Linked DNA regions of Homo sapiens. The protein of the gene in region 2 interacts with the protein of the main gene of each other region in a pairwise test. Each region holds a gene or a part of one and is shown on either strand. Other genes may lie near its edges.

Region 1 (7,211 bases), on a different chromosome or scaffold from region 2:
AGGACAGCTGGAATGTGGGCAGCACGTGACCAAGTGCTTTGCAGACATGGCATGGCCCCCAGCCAGGCCCTGAGGAAAGGAGAGTCTCAGGACAGCAGCTATGTCACTGTAAGCAGGACCCTTGAAAGCAGGTGCCACCTGCAAAAGGGGGAGCCCTGAGGCCCAGGCAGGCCTGTCACAGTGTGGGGCACCTGTCTAGACAGCCCCATGGCCAGCAGTGGGGGTGGGCCATGGGCCATGGGGACCTTCCTGGTATGGGGTACTGCCATGTCCCCAGGGAATATGGGGGGCCCAGGAAGGTCCCCAAGGCTCGAAGGACCCAGGTCTTTTCATACTGCCAAAGAGATGTAAGGCCTACAGAGGGGAAAGTTTGCATATCTGTGAAGGCATGGAGCCTAGGCATTGGAAGTGTCCAGTAAGCATTTTCATTTGGCAGAAGTATCTCCATGGCACTTCTACCTACAGCCCTGCCACATTTTGCCACAAACTGTCCAGCAGCCCTGAGATGGAGCCCCAGTGTAGACCGTCATGGAGCACACTGGCTCTGGAACAATGAGGAGCAGACTGGAGAAAGCCAGATGGGGTTTACCTGTCAACAGCCACAACATAGTTGTGCTGGGGTGACTGTTCAAGAAAAATGAACTTTGGTGCTCCTGCCGAATGGGTTGTTAGTGTTCAGTCCTTTTCCTACCACTGAGTTGTTTTGTCTGATCATTCTTCCTCCTGGTTCTGCGGGTCTGCCTTCTTGAAAGGGAAGAGCAAGACTCCAGCTCCCTGCCCTGTAGAGGTGCCTTCTACCTTGCTCAGTGTTGAAGCAAAGGAGCAAAGCAAAGCTTAAGTCAGAGATTTGGTGCTCAGCTAATCACAGAGACTTTTAAATGTCAACCAGGGTTTGCTATCAGGCCAAAGCTGGATTATTATTACCCAAAGTAGAAAATTGTGAGACAGAGGCAGGTGGGGAGGGAGGGAGAGAGAAGAAAGCAGAAGGTGGAGGATACGTGGATTTAATTTTTTAAAAATAAATATATGATTCCGTGTCAATTAAAAACAAGTACCCCAGGCAAGTCTTCCTGCAGTCCTGTCTTAGCCGCACACACAGCATAACTGCAAACCCACTTGAGCTCATTTTTGCTCAAAGACCAACTCTATTAAACCCTTAGAATGTTCTGGATTTCAACACACAGTCCACAGACAGCCATTCTATCAAAAGCTTAGTGTTTTCCCTATGACTGGGTTTTCTGGTAAGGTGAACTAAGGCATCCTTTTCCATTTCAGGCTGTGGTAACAGCAGATAACAGCCGCAGAGGTCATAGCCAGCACTTTCTATGCGTCCCTTCATTTAATCCCAGTACTCCTAGGTGGTAGATCTATTATTTTGTCCACATGAATTATTGAAAAGTCTGTCCTAAATTTTAAATGGAACGAAGTACTGGGTTGCAAGTTACTGGTGGCTGTTTCACAGGAAATACTACGACAATGGGACTTTGGGAATGTGTTCTGGAGACTCCACTCCTTGGTGACTACTACATGGAGCACAGAAAATTGTCTTGAGTGGCAGCTATGTGCCAGGTGAGGAGACAGGTTTTACTCACATGACTCCCCAGAAGCCCTGCAGCATCCCCATATTTTATAAAGGGGAAGTACAAGCCCAGAGAGACATCTGACTTGACTAAGTTCACACAAAAACAGCAAGGTCTGGGCCAAGATGGAAGCCCGGGCTTTGCCTTCTTCTTCTGCCTGCAGGGCAGGGGCTTTCATCCTGGCTTCACGCTGATTTCAAAAGCCTCTCATTCTCTTGACACCTCATGGCCCCTGAGTTTATCCCAAGAATAATAAGTTCTACTGTCCTCCTGGAGATGCCGAAGAATCAAAACTGCAACACACAGAGGGCCTGGGTGTGCGCGAACACTGTAGTACACACCGATGACAGCAGATTAAGCCATTTCTCTCTTAGGTGCGTCACCCAACCAGCTCCTGGACCCTTCTGCTGTGCTGCCCTGACAGTCACAATATGTCCTAGTGGACTAATTAGCACTAACTACCCATGTCACCCCAAGGCCATTTAAGAAGACAAATAAAAAAGACAAAACCAATGAGTATTGTGGCTGAAGATGACGAAAAAAAGTTAAAAGCAGGGAGGAATGAATTATTTTTTCTTTCTCAATCTCTCCCTCTGCTTAAACCAAAGAGAGGTTTTCATCTGAGAGCCCGGGAGCTAAGCAGCTACTTTCTACATGAAAAAGTGAAAACATTAAAATAAAATCCCTTTCTTTCAAGCTAACGTTCTAAAACTGAACCTCTGCAGAGGCTCCAAAAGAGAAATGCCTTGCTTTTAAGCCCCTGAGTGAGAGGGATCCTGAGGAAGTGGCAGAGGGGATGAACCTAAGCTTTGGGACATAACAACCGGCACCTCCAGTGGCCACCACTCCTAGCTATGCTGCCTGTGGATGGGGCCCCCAGTGCTGGCCCCTAACAGCATGGGGAAGCCTCCCCAGCCACTCTGAAGCTGTTCGCATCACATCCAAGATGAACCTAGGCAGGGAGGCTGAGTGTGCTTGGGAGATGCCAAGTTAGGGAAGTAAGTTCCCCAGGGTCCTTCAACTTGTGGTGCCTGAGGATAGCTGCTTTTTTTCCAGTGCAGATGGAGACACGGCAGCCTTGGGGGGATGTGTGAAAGTAAGGCCTCCCTCCCTCTGCCTTTCCAAGTGGCTGATCATCTCCTTCCTTCTCATAGCTACTTCTAGGAGAGGCATCCAGGCAGGAACCACTTCTCCATTTCACAGATGGGAAGACTGAGAACCATACTGGAAAGGGGTGTATTTTAATTAAACTGGAGAGTGGGGAACACTGATGAGGAAAGCAAGCTGATAGACGGAAGGCTCTGCCTGTCACTGCCAGCACGGGCACTTGGGCCTTCTTATCAAGGGTTCTGATGGGAGTTTCCACTAGGATTCCAGGTGTCGATCATCTAGTAGCCGAGTTCTGATGAGCTGGACTTTGGGTGGTTGAGGTAGGGAGCAGTGGAAAGGGGAATTGGAGTCTTATCAACCTCTTTGAACACCAGTTCCTTCCCCTCTCTTCTATAAAAATGTCGTAGCAATACCTGCCTGGCAGAGTTGTGAGAATTAAATGAGATGATGAATACATCTGCTCTCAGCACCACACCACACCTGTGGCAGTCCTCAGAGAGAAGAATCACAGCTTTCATTCATTGAGAGCTCACTAAGTGCCAGGTATGCTCAGCTCTTGTGCAGACGTTCTTTTTCTTTGGATGTAAATGTGACATGGGCAGAGCAGGAGGAGCTGTGAGGCTGGCTTGGCTGAGCCACAGGGATTGCTGGCATCTTATATGGCATTCAGGACTATGGAGGGTCCACGGGAAGAAACACAGAAACAGAACCCAAGTATCCTTCGGGGACTCTTGGACTTTCTTCCCCTTGATCTTAGACATGCCTCAGTAAACAGATGCTGGTTTCTATCGAGACTCATTCCTGGGGAAGGACCCCCACCAGCCAAGCAAGGTAAAGCCCAGACTCAGTTACATGAATTACAGGTTTAAGACAGAAGCCTTCCTATGAATATTTTTCTGGCCAGTGGCTTATATAAGAGAAATTTGCTCATTGTATTTCTATCTGGCCAACGAAGGGGTCTAGAGGGGCTTTCAGCAACCCAAACAGTCTTGTCAGCCCTAACTCTGGACCTAAGGAAATAATTATGAATCCTCAAGATCCATTTAAAAGTGTCATTACTGTAGATAAACAAAGACGAGTGGATGCTTCTTCCTACTCCACCTCACTGCAGAGATTCCATCCATCCCAGGGTCACTGACCACTGACTGGATGAACTAGGATTGGTGTGGCAGAGTGGAGTTTTCAGGAGCCAAGAGACTCCTGGATTGTCATGCTCTGTACTCCTTCCCCACGAAAGGAATGTCTAGAACTCCTGCTGAAAGTAGTCATTGCCTGCATTTCCTAGGCAGAATGTGTTAGCTCCCTCCCCAGAAGAACCTGGGCGAAGAAGGTGTTCCAATCTGCATTTGGAAAGAATCCCTCCCGCAAAGAACTCTACACCCTCTAAGAGAAGATAACGTGAGGGCATATTCTCCTCTCTTAGAGGGTGTTTTCAATACTAAATTCTATCTCTGAAGAGAATGAGGACCCGAAGGGGGGCAGTGCACCAAGTTTTCAACTAAAACAAAAGCAAAACTAATCTGCAGTCTTGAAGGTGGGCTCATTCATTCCCCTGCCCCCACTTTTTAAAACATTTTTTTTCTTAAATGAAACAGTTTCTTTTATCTTTTGGCTTCTCGTGTACTCAGAACCATAGAGCTCAAAGCTTCTCAGCTCAACGGAGAACTCAGCACTTCTTGGACTGATAAATAGAGCAGCTTTAAAATGCTTAGAACTGAAGACAGACCAACTGTGGCGAGAGAAAGTAAACACATCCATGCACCAGTCAACCCTAGCAAGCTCCTCGCTGAGATTACAAACTGCAGTTCCTGCCTGAGCCGGAGAGGATGCTGGAGCAGGCTGGGGGACCAGAACCACAAACCAGCCCTGGCTTAGCTCTGGCTTAGCTAGCTGTGCCCCAGAAGAGCTGGGTCCTCAGGGAGTCTTCTTGCGGCCCGGTTTGGATGTTCCTAAGCATAGAAGACTCTGCCAGTGTGTCCCTCATTCGTTTCACATTTGGAAATGTACCAAGAGAAGTGGGAACCAGCTTTACTCTTTGATCTAGATGGGAATCCTTTCCTTTGCATTCAAGCTCTCTGTGTACAGGTGTAACTTGCCAGTGAGAGACTTGGGATTTCTCACAAAATAGAATGTGATAACGACATAATTTGATATGAATATTTGAGGAACTTTATCTCTGGACAATATATACTTTAAACATCCCCCTCCCCAAGTCACACACACAAATTGTTTTTATGAGAACCAATTAATAAATGCTAATTCATTGAGGCATATCTTCACTAAATTACTGTTTCATTTAATTGCAGGGAATTTTCCATTACTAAACTCTCCCTTGCTGATTTTTTTTTGCATTATTTATATACTCTTTCAATTTCACTAATAGTGAGGTTGGTATGTGATATTATCTGATGTTTGTACGTCTTAAATTTATTTTTCATTTAAAATATTTCCTCATTCTTGCAGCTCCACATAATCAGGGAGAAACATCAATAAAAGCAGGCAAGATTTTACAATAAATGGTTGAAAAAGGCACTGGCTGAAATTAACCTGACAGGAACGCGTCCTGTGTGATTGTGTTTCTCTCATTCCAGACGTGCGTGTGTGTGCGTGTGTGTGTGTCTCTACTTTGGGTTAATGTGGGAATGCTTTCCTATATCAATAAGTCACAAGTCGATCTGTGAAAAGATTGTGCATACAAAATGGAGATGAAGATCACAGGGGCTTTAATAATAAAATAAACATAAACAACACTCGAATCTCTTTATAAATCCCAGAGCACAATGTGCGTTTTCTTACTTCCTTTTCATGGACCCCAGATAAAGACTTTGACAGCCAGATATCCAAGATCCGGATCAGCCAGCTTCCTAAAATTCTCCTCTTTTTTTTTAAGGGGTAGAAAACTGGGGGTATCCCTTGGTGGTTAGGGGTTGCTTAGAGACTGTGGTAGAGATTTGGTGTTAACAAAAATGTATTTTGAAAGCAGGATTTCAATTTTCTTATATTGAATGGCAAAGGTTCCATGCACCTGGCTATCTTCATTTCTGAAATGAATGCTTTCATTTTATTCTCTCCAGCTACCTTCTCCCTTTCTTTCCTTTCCACCCCCATTGCCTCCTTTCAGTGTCTTTCTTTTTCTCCTTATTCTTTCACTCCTTTCTCTCTCACAGCAAAATGTTCTGGAGGATGTGAATGATTAAACTGTTTACTCCAAGGTTTAGGTATGAAAAGGCAAGTCACTGTAAGTAAAGTTTCACCTTTATACCCAACTCCATCAATAATTACAGAACAAGGATGACTATTAGTAAATCTTTCTTACAATTGGCTCTTACAAAAATGATTTCATTTTTTCTGGGCATACCAAGTTTGACAGATTTTACTTTTCACAAAAATTATTTACACAGCAGAGGAACCTGCTCCAAAATGAAGGAAGCATATAAAGGGCCGTTGAGTGTATCCATAGGAAAATGAATACCTATAAAATGCATCTCAATAAATTAGAGATTTGAGGCCATAAATAGAACGTTTTGACATATTATATTAGTAGATGCCCTCTAATTTAAACCAAAGTGTCCCTTAGTAATTAAAATTCCATGAGATTGATTTTTTATTTGGTTTCCTTCACTTCCTTTGTCTTCTTCAACAAAATTAGGCAGAGTCCTTTTGGGGGTAGACTGATAAAATTAATTAACTTTCCTTCCACCCCCAAAAAGTTCCAAATAAATGCTTCCAATAGACATCAAAAAAGTGTCAATTAGAAATAATTACTTCTTATCAATCAGTGGGGCAATTAAAGTGACAAAGCTTAAAAAGATACTTATCTTAAAACTAATTCACAAGGTAGCTAAATTATCTCCTAATTAACTTGCATTGTGGAGGGTGGGGGGGAACCATCTTGAAACAAAGATGAATTGATGAACCCCAATACCTCTTTATGTTCCTCAAAGTTGCTTCCATCCCCTGAAACCTTATTTTCAACCCAGGCAGGAAACCTGGGAAGAAAACAGATCCTTTCCAAATGCATTTATTCCACTTTCCTCAATTCTAAAACCAAGAGTTAGGAATGGGGCTTTAGATCTCACATCAGGGAAGTTAGAGACATCGTCCTCTGCCTTGTCTTATTTTACCACTTGAATGAACTATTTTCGGGACTGGTGGGAGTGGGCTGCGACAAGTTATTTAAGATAACTTTTAATGACAGCCAGCCTGCTTGCTTTTACAAAACTCTCTTCCTCATTGGTACAGTATTGTTTTCACTTTTATATATATGGGGCATTTATCGTTTCTTCTGCATCTTTGAATTTTTTTAAAAATGTTTTTGCTTTAGAGAATTTCGTCCCTGATGCAACAAAAATAGCGATTTTAAGGAACGTTCAGCCCATCGCTGACCTGCGCACGTTAAAATGATTCGCGTTCAACATTCCTGCAGAATAAAGCTGTAGGAAAGACAACGTTAAGACTCTCTGCAAGGCAAGACCAGCCAACGACGAGGCGACCCCGTGGCAGGCTGGGCGGCGGAGGCCG
Region 2 (7,211 bases):
ACCCAGAGGCTATCTTCTGGCATATTGGCTGCAGTGGTGCCTCCGTAAGCCCTGGGAGTCAGCAGGATCTCTGCCATCATGGGCCTGGCCCTGTCCCTTCCAGCTGGAGCACAGGGTTCAGCCTTGTCCATGGCGAGGTGTCCACATGCGTCTGCCCAAGGCTGCCACACTTTGTCCCAAAAACAAACGCAGGATGTGCTGCTCAGCCTTTTAGTGTCTGATGTAGCTACTTTTTTTTTTTTTTTAAAGAGACAGGGTCTTGCCCTATCACCTAGGCTGGAGTGCAGTGGCCTGATCGTGGCACACTGCAGCCTGGAAATCCCAGGCTCAAGTGATCCTCCTGCTTCAGCCTCTCGAATTGCTGGGACTAAAGGCATGCACCACCAGGCCTGGCTTTTTTTTTTTTTTTTTTTTTTTTAATTTTTGTAGAGATAAGGTCTTGCCATGTTGCCCAGGCTGGTTTTGAACTCCTGGGCTCAAGTGCCACCTCAGCCTCCTACAGTGCAGGGGCTCCAGGTGTGCGCCATTGTGCCTGGCTGATAGGTACTTCCGTAGCTTGTTGTGGGTTAGGTACTCTTGCCTTCCATCATTGATGAGAAATTTGCTGAAAAGCTTAGTAACCTCTTAAGGCCAGTAAGACAGATGGTGTGGTTTCCTCCTTGATTTAGAAGCATTTTATTCCATCTGTTTGTTAGACTCTGACATGAGGAGTGCACATACATGGTGACACTTTACCCTACAGCAGGTGGTACTGTGAAGTCTTGCAGGGGTGAGAGGCCTGGAGATGCTTTGCTTTGAAGAGATTGGCGGATGTGTCATAGCCACCTTCAAACACAACTGTGGCCCATGGTGCAGTGGAGAGGCTGGGGGGACGTTAGGAGGAATGGGTCAAAGGCACCATAAAGAACTTTCCAGGCCGGGTGCAGTGGCTCCCACCTGTGATCCCAGCATCAGGCCAGGTGCAGTGGCTCCCACCTGTGATCCCAGCATTGTGGGGGCCAGGGCAGAGGATCACGTGAGCCTGAGAGGTCGAGACCAGCCTAGGCAACATAGTAAGACCCCCTCTCTACTAAAAAACATTAGCCAGGTGTGGTGGCATGCGCCTGTTGTCCCAGCTACTTGGGAGGCTGAGGCAGGAGCATAGCTTGAGCCCGGGAGGTCGAAGCTGTACTTAACTATGATCACACCACTGCGCTCCAGCCTTGGCAACAGAGCAAGACCCTGTCTCAAAAATAAAAAGAATTTTCCAACTTTTGAGTCATCCCACAGCAGGATGAGTGGGACAGGCTGGTGCTGGAATTGTTCCTGGTGACGGCATCAGTCAGGAGCCTGCAGAATCTGATAAAACGAGAGGGTGTTCATGCGCAGGGCACCAGTAATAGGAGGGGACCAGAGTGGGGCTGACCAAGCCAGGAGGGGACAGCGGGGGCCACGGGGTCACTTGTGCTGGGCAGGAGCATCGGGATGTGGTGCTCGGTGGGGGAGGGGCCAGGAGAGGGTGCGAGTCCCGCGTTCGCGTCACAGTGAGGTTTGCAGTGACGCATACTGGACAGAGCGCAGCCCCTCGTGACCTGGCATCTGGGCGCCATTGCTGCTAGGAGAGACCGCCCATGAGCTGCCAAAGCCAAGTATGGAGCTGGGCGCATGGGATGTGCCTCTGTGAAAATGCAGGCAAGAGGAGACTGTGCCCTTGCACACACGCACACTCACACCGTCAGCCAATGGACAAACACCAAAACAACCAACACAAATGCTTCCGGGTAGGAGATGGGGTTAGGGCTCAGGCAGTCCAGAGCAGGGGTGGAAGCGGCCACCTTCCCAGGACCTCTTGAAGGTATGAGTCCGTCTGTATGTACCTTTGAATCATGTAGATGTATTGGCAGCTTCAGAAGTTAAATTAAACATCATTGGGGCCGGGCAGAGTGGCTCACGCCTGTAATCTCAGCACTCTGGGAGGCTGAGGCGGGTGGATCACTTGAGATCAGTAGTTTGAGACTAGCCTGGCCACCATGGTGAAACCCCATCTCGACCAAAAATACAAAAACTAGCTGGGCTTGGTGGCGCATGTCTGTAAAGCCAGCTGCTTGTGAGGCTGAGGTATGAGAATCACTTGAACCCAGGAGGCAGAGGTAGCAGTGAGCCAAGATCACGCAACTGCACTCCAGCCTGGGGCGGCAAAGCGAGACTCCATCTCCAAAAAAAAAAAAGGAACATCATTGGCTGTCACAGAAACTGAAAGGACCTCACTTTATGGCTGTCCACACCGTCCACACCTCCTGGAGTCCCGAGCGCGGCTGGCGTGTCGTGTGCATTTCTCAGGCCCTCGCCAGGTGGTGACCAGCGTGTCCCAGGAGTGGACGACAGGGTGGTGTGGCCGGGGCCTGTGGGACTCATCTTCCCTGGGCAGTGCTGGGGCCGCCTTGGCTGCGTCCTCGTGTGGATCACTGTGTTTTTATGTGACACGGCTTTGAGCGTCGTTCACATGTTCCTCGTGGCTCATTGTGTCCACATCTTGCTCCTTCTGAGGAAGCAGAGGGTGTGCCGTGGCCTCTTGTTTCACACACAGATGCGCCATGCTGCCCGGCACCTTCTCACGGGCACCCCGCAGAATGCCAGAGGATTCTTAGAGAAAGAAAAGAGCTGGGCACGGTGGCTCACGCCTGTAATCTCAGCACTTTGGGAGGCCGGGGCAGGCGGATCACGAGGTCAGGAGATCGAGACCATCGTGGCTAACACGGTGAAACCCCGTCTCTACTAAAAATAGAAAAAAATTAGCTGGGCGTGGTGGCGGGCGCCTGTTGTCCCAGCTACTCAGGAGGCCGAGGCAGGAGAATGGCGTGAACCCCGGAGGCAGAGCTTGCAGTGAGCCGAGATTGTGCCACTGCACTCCAGCCTGGGTGACAGAGCGAGACTCCATCTCGAAAAGAAAAGAAAGAACCCTGGAGTACTTGCTGGTTGTGGAGGAAGGCCCCACATCTGCCCGCCCCGTTGCTGTCCTGTTGAGAGCACGGCCTGGGCTCCCCCGAGCCCTGCAGATTTCATGCAACACATCTGAAAACGGCAAAGGCCTTTTCCACAGATGTCGTGCCCCCTTTCCCTGCAGTTATCTCAGCAGCCCCCTTTCTTTGGGGATAGGGCGGCTGCTGCCAGTTCCCACTAGATCGCCTGAGCACCCACTGGGGTGTGAGAGCCAGGCCTGGTCCCTGTGTGCTGGGGCTGGGTGTTCTGAGCTGGCACTCTCACAGTTGTTGCATACCTGCTGGGTGCCAGGGCAAAGCTGGCCCGTTTCCTACAAACTGGCTCCTTTATTTTTTTTTTTTGTTTATGTTTTTTTGAGATGGAGTCTCACTCTATCGCCCAGGCTGGAGTGCAGTGATGCGATCTCGGCTCACTGCAACCTCCTCCTCCTGGGTTCACACCATTCTCCTGCCTCAGCCTCCCGAGTAGCTGGGACTACAGGCTCCCGCCACCATGCCGGGCTAAATTTTTTGTATTTTTAGTAGAGACGGGGTTTCACCATGTTAGCCAGGATGATCTCGATCTCCTGACCTTGTGATCCACCCGCCTCGGCCTCCCAAAGTGCTGGGATTACAGGCGTGAGCCACCGCACCCGGCCACAAACTGGCTCCTTTATTATGTAAAGAATAAAGTGGGCTATAAAACATGAGAATATGCAGGCTGACCCCCAAAAGCCTGACACCCTTGAAAACCCACTCCCCCATGTCTCAGATGGCTTTCATGGGGGCAGGAGAAAGGATAGTGACCTTAAGTCTTCTCCCGTGACGGTGACAGCTCGTTTGCCAGCTGTTGCTGGAACCGGCCCTGGATTTAGAGGAAGGCGTGGAAGTTCAAGACTCAAGATACTTCCTGGATAGAGAATAACTGGAAAGGCTCAAGTAAGTTTTTCCGAAGCTCTCGCCTTAGGAGGAGTTCAGCCTGGAATAAGAGCGTGTGTTAGTTTTGTCATCCCACCTAACTACAGATTGAATTACCCTGATAGGTTTTTAAGCCATTCCAGTGTGCATTATCTCAATAAAGCTGTTATTTAAAAAAAATACTAGATTGCAGTTTTAAAATACTTAAATTTTACAGCTTCTAAAAAAGGAAAGTTATTTCCAACCAGAAAAGTAAAGTAGAAAATGGATTCTTTGCGCAGAGCATGGTGGCTTACGCCTGTAATCCCAGCACTTTGGAAGGCAGGGGCAGCAGGATTGCTTGAGGCCAAGAGTTCGAGACCAGCCTGGGCAACATAGAGAGACCCTGTCTCTACAAAAGATTTAAAATTACCTGGGCATGGTCGGGCACCGTGGCTCACGCCTGTAATCCTAGCACTTTAGGAGGCCAAGGTGAACGGATCACAAGGTCAGGAGATCGAGACCATCCTGGCTAACATGGTGAAACTTCATCTCTACTAAAAATACAAAAAATTAGCCTGGCGTTGTGGCGGGCACCTGTAGTCCCAGCTACTCGGGAGGCTGAGGCAGGAGAATGGCGTGAACCCGGGTGGGGCGGAGCTTGCACTGAGCTGAGATCTCGCCACTGCACTCCAGCCTGGGCAACAGAGCGAAACTCCATCTCAAAAAAAAAAAAAAATTATCTGGGCACGCTGGCACACACTGTAGTCCTAGCTACTTGGGAGGCTGAAGTGAGAGGAACACTTGAGCCAGGGAGATGGAGGCTGCAGTGTGCCCTCATTGCACCACTGCACTCCAGCCTGGGTCCCAGAGCGAGGCCCTGTCTCTGAAAAAAAAAAAAAAAATTATATCTGCAAAGACCCTATGTCCAAATAAGGTTCCATTCACAGGTACTTGGAGTTAGGACATCAGCATCTCTCTGGGGAGCACATTTGACCCGCGACGCTGGCGTTCATCTCTGTCTTAGTTGTCATATTAACCATTTCGTTTCTTAGCTTTCCATTTGTATTTCTATAAGATAAAGGTGTAGTATAGTATTTGAATGGTTGTGAAAAAATAAACATGCCGAAGCAATGGATTTGGTTTTGGGATTCCAAAGTTACCGTGTCGTGAGTGGGCCACAGAATGAGCCCCCTTAGCCCAGGTGGGGAAAGTCATTTCTGTGTCTCCTCCTCCCTCCAGGAAACTCCCAGTACAGCCAGCAGCAGGCCGGGTACCAGCAGGGTGCCGCGCAGCAGCAGACGTACTCCCAGCAGCAGTACCCCAGCCAGCAGAGCTACCCCGGGCAGCAGCAGGGCTACGGTAAGAGGCGAGCACGGTCCTCGGGGCCCCCCAGCGCCCACCCCTGCCCCTGCCACACATGGGTACGTGCTCAGTACCCCAGCCAGCAGAGCTACCCTGGGCAGCAGCAGGGCTACGGTAAGAGGCGAGCACGCTCCTCGGGGCCCCCCAGCGCCCACCCCTGCCCCTGCCACATGTGGGTACGTGCCCGGTGACCCTGGTGCTCAGGCAGATGTGTAATAAACTTATTTTGAATACCTTTAGGTTTCCAGAAAAGTTGGAAACATCCATGCACGTAGACCTGAAACATCTTATTTTAACTTAAACATAAATTCATTGCCCACGTGGCCTGTGACGGGAGCCAGTGTCCCGTGTATCCATCACCTGCACGCCTCAGGCCCAGCTTCAACCTCTTTGACAGAGCAGGTCAAAGCCTGTGGGTCTCAGCCTTCACTGCAGCTTACAATCACCCAGGAAACTTCTGAAAAATAAGGTGTGGGCTGCCCCAGGTCTTTTGTTGGAGCAAGATCTCAGTTCTCAGGATGAGCTCCACACACGTGGTTTCTTATGAGGCACGTGCCTGATTCTGCTGTGCTTATTCAGCCCTTTACAGCCATTACTAATTAAATAGTATAAAAATTACTTGAGGCCAGGCGTGGTGGCTCACGCCTATAATCCCAGCACTTTGGGAGGCTGAGGTGGGCGGATGACCTGAGGTCAGGGGTTCAAGACCAGCCTGACCAATATGGTGAAACCTCGTCTCTACTAAAAATACAAAAATTAGCTGGGCATGGTGGTGGGGGCCTATAGTCCCAGCTACTCAGGAGATGAGACAGGAGAATTGCTTGAACCAGGAGGTAGAGGTCGCAGTGAGCCGAGATCACACCACTACACTTCAGCCTAGGCGATAGAGTGAGACGACTCCTCAAAAAATAAAAAAATAAATTACTTGAGGCTCAGTGTGGTGGCTCATGTCTATAATCCCAGCACTTTGGGAGGCTGAGGCAGGAGGATTGCTTGAGCCCAGGAGTTCGAGACCAGCCTGGATGACATAGTGAGACCATCTCTACAAAAAATACAAAAATTAGCCAGGCATGGTGGCACACTCCTGTGGTCCCAGCTACTTGGGAGGCTGAGGCAGGAGAATCACTTGAGCCTGGGAGGTGGAGGTTGCGGTGAGCCAAGATCACGCCACTGCACTCCAGCCTGGCTTGGGTGACAGAGTGACACCCTGCCTAAAAAAAAAAAAAAAAATTGGCCTCTATCAGTTCTTGCCGGAGCCTTTGACTTAGCCTTCCTAGAGACGATGTCTCTGTCTCACCTGCCTGCAGGTTTTCAGCAGCTCCCGTGGTAGTTCAGTGACAAGTTACAGCAGCCAGTGTGACTGGGGCCAGCGGGTTCTGGAGGGCTGTCCTGCCTTCAGGTAGCAGCAGTTCTGGGGTGATGGAGAGAGCCCATCAGCCCTCGCCATGCTGGTGGGGGGCCTGGGGCACAGTCCTGGGACCTCACAGGACTGGAGGGGCTGGTGAGTCGGTTACGTGGTGCTCTCGCTGTACAGAGTTAACGTGGAGCCACGTGCAGGTGCCAGGTGTTCTGGAGATTGACAAAAGGCTGATGCATTGAGACGGGAATTTTTCAAGGAGAAGAGGAAGTTTTAAAAAAAATTTTTAAGTTAAGAAAAAAAAAGAAAGAGGTGTCCGTTTTGGCCGGCCTCACGGTTCCTGGTGTCTTCTCAGGGTCTGCCCAGGGAGCCCCGTCACAGTACCCCGGCTACCAGCAAGGCCAAGGCCAGCAGTACGGAAGCTACCGAGCACCGCAGACAGCGCCGTCTGCCCAGCAGCAGCGGCCCTACGGCTATGAACAGGCAAGCTTTCTGGATGTTTCCAGATGTGCCCATCCGCCGCGCCTGTCGAGACATAATGAAGATTTCTCTTATGGCCATGAGGAATAATGAGCTGGAACTAACTGGCTTCCAGGGTTCCTTCCAGAACGTTAAGTCTCTGAGCCTGTAAGGTT

What was found. Proteins that work in one complex are often made in the same cells at the same time.
Region 1: the proteins of SS18L1 (region 2) and PAX8 interact in binary tests that used the Homo sapiens proteins (3 or more experiments, as listed by UniProt).

The regions. Positions count from the first base shown.
Region 1 is NC_000002.12:113,268,739-113,275,949, forward strand, and holds part of PAX8 (paired box protein Pax-8), read right to left. Parts: intron 1-7,211. UniProt on the Homo sapiens protein: Transcription factor for the thyroid-specific expression of the genes exclusively expressed in the thyroid cell type, maintaining the functional differentiation of such cells.
Region 2 is NC_000020.11:62,167,586-62,174,796, forward strand, and holds part of SS18L1 (calcium-responsive transactivator), read left to right. Parts: intron 1-5,096; coding exon 5,097-5,216; intron 5,217-6,931; coding exon 6,932-7,059; coding exon of another isoform or gene 7,060-7,146; exon of another isoform or gene 7,147-7,211. UniProt on the Homo sapiens protein: Transcriptional activator which is required for calcium-dependent dendritic growth and branching in cortical neurons. Recruits CREB-binding protein (CREBBP) to nuclear bodies.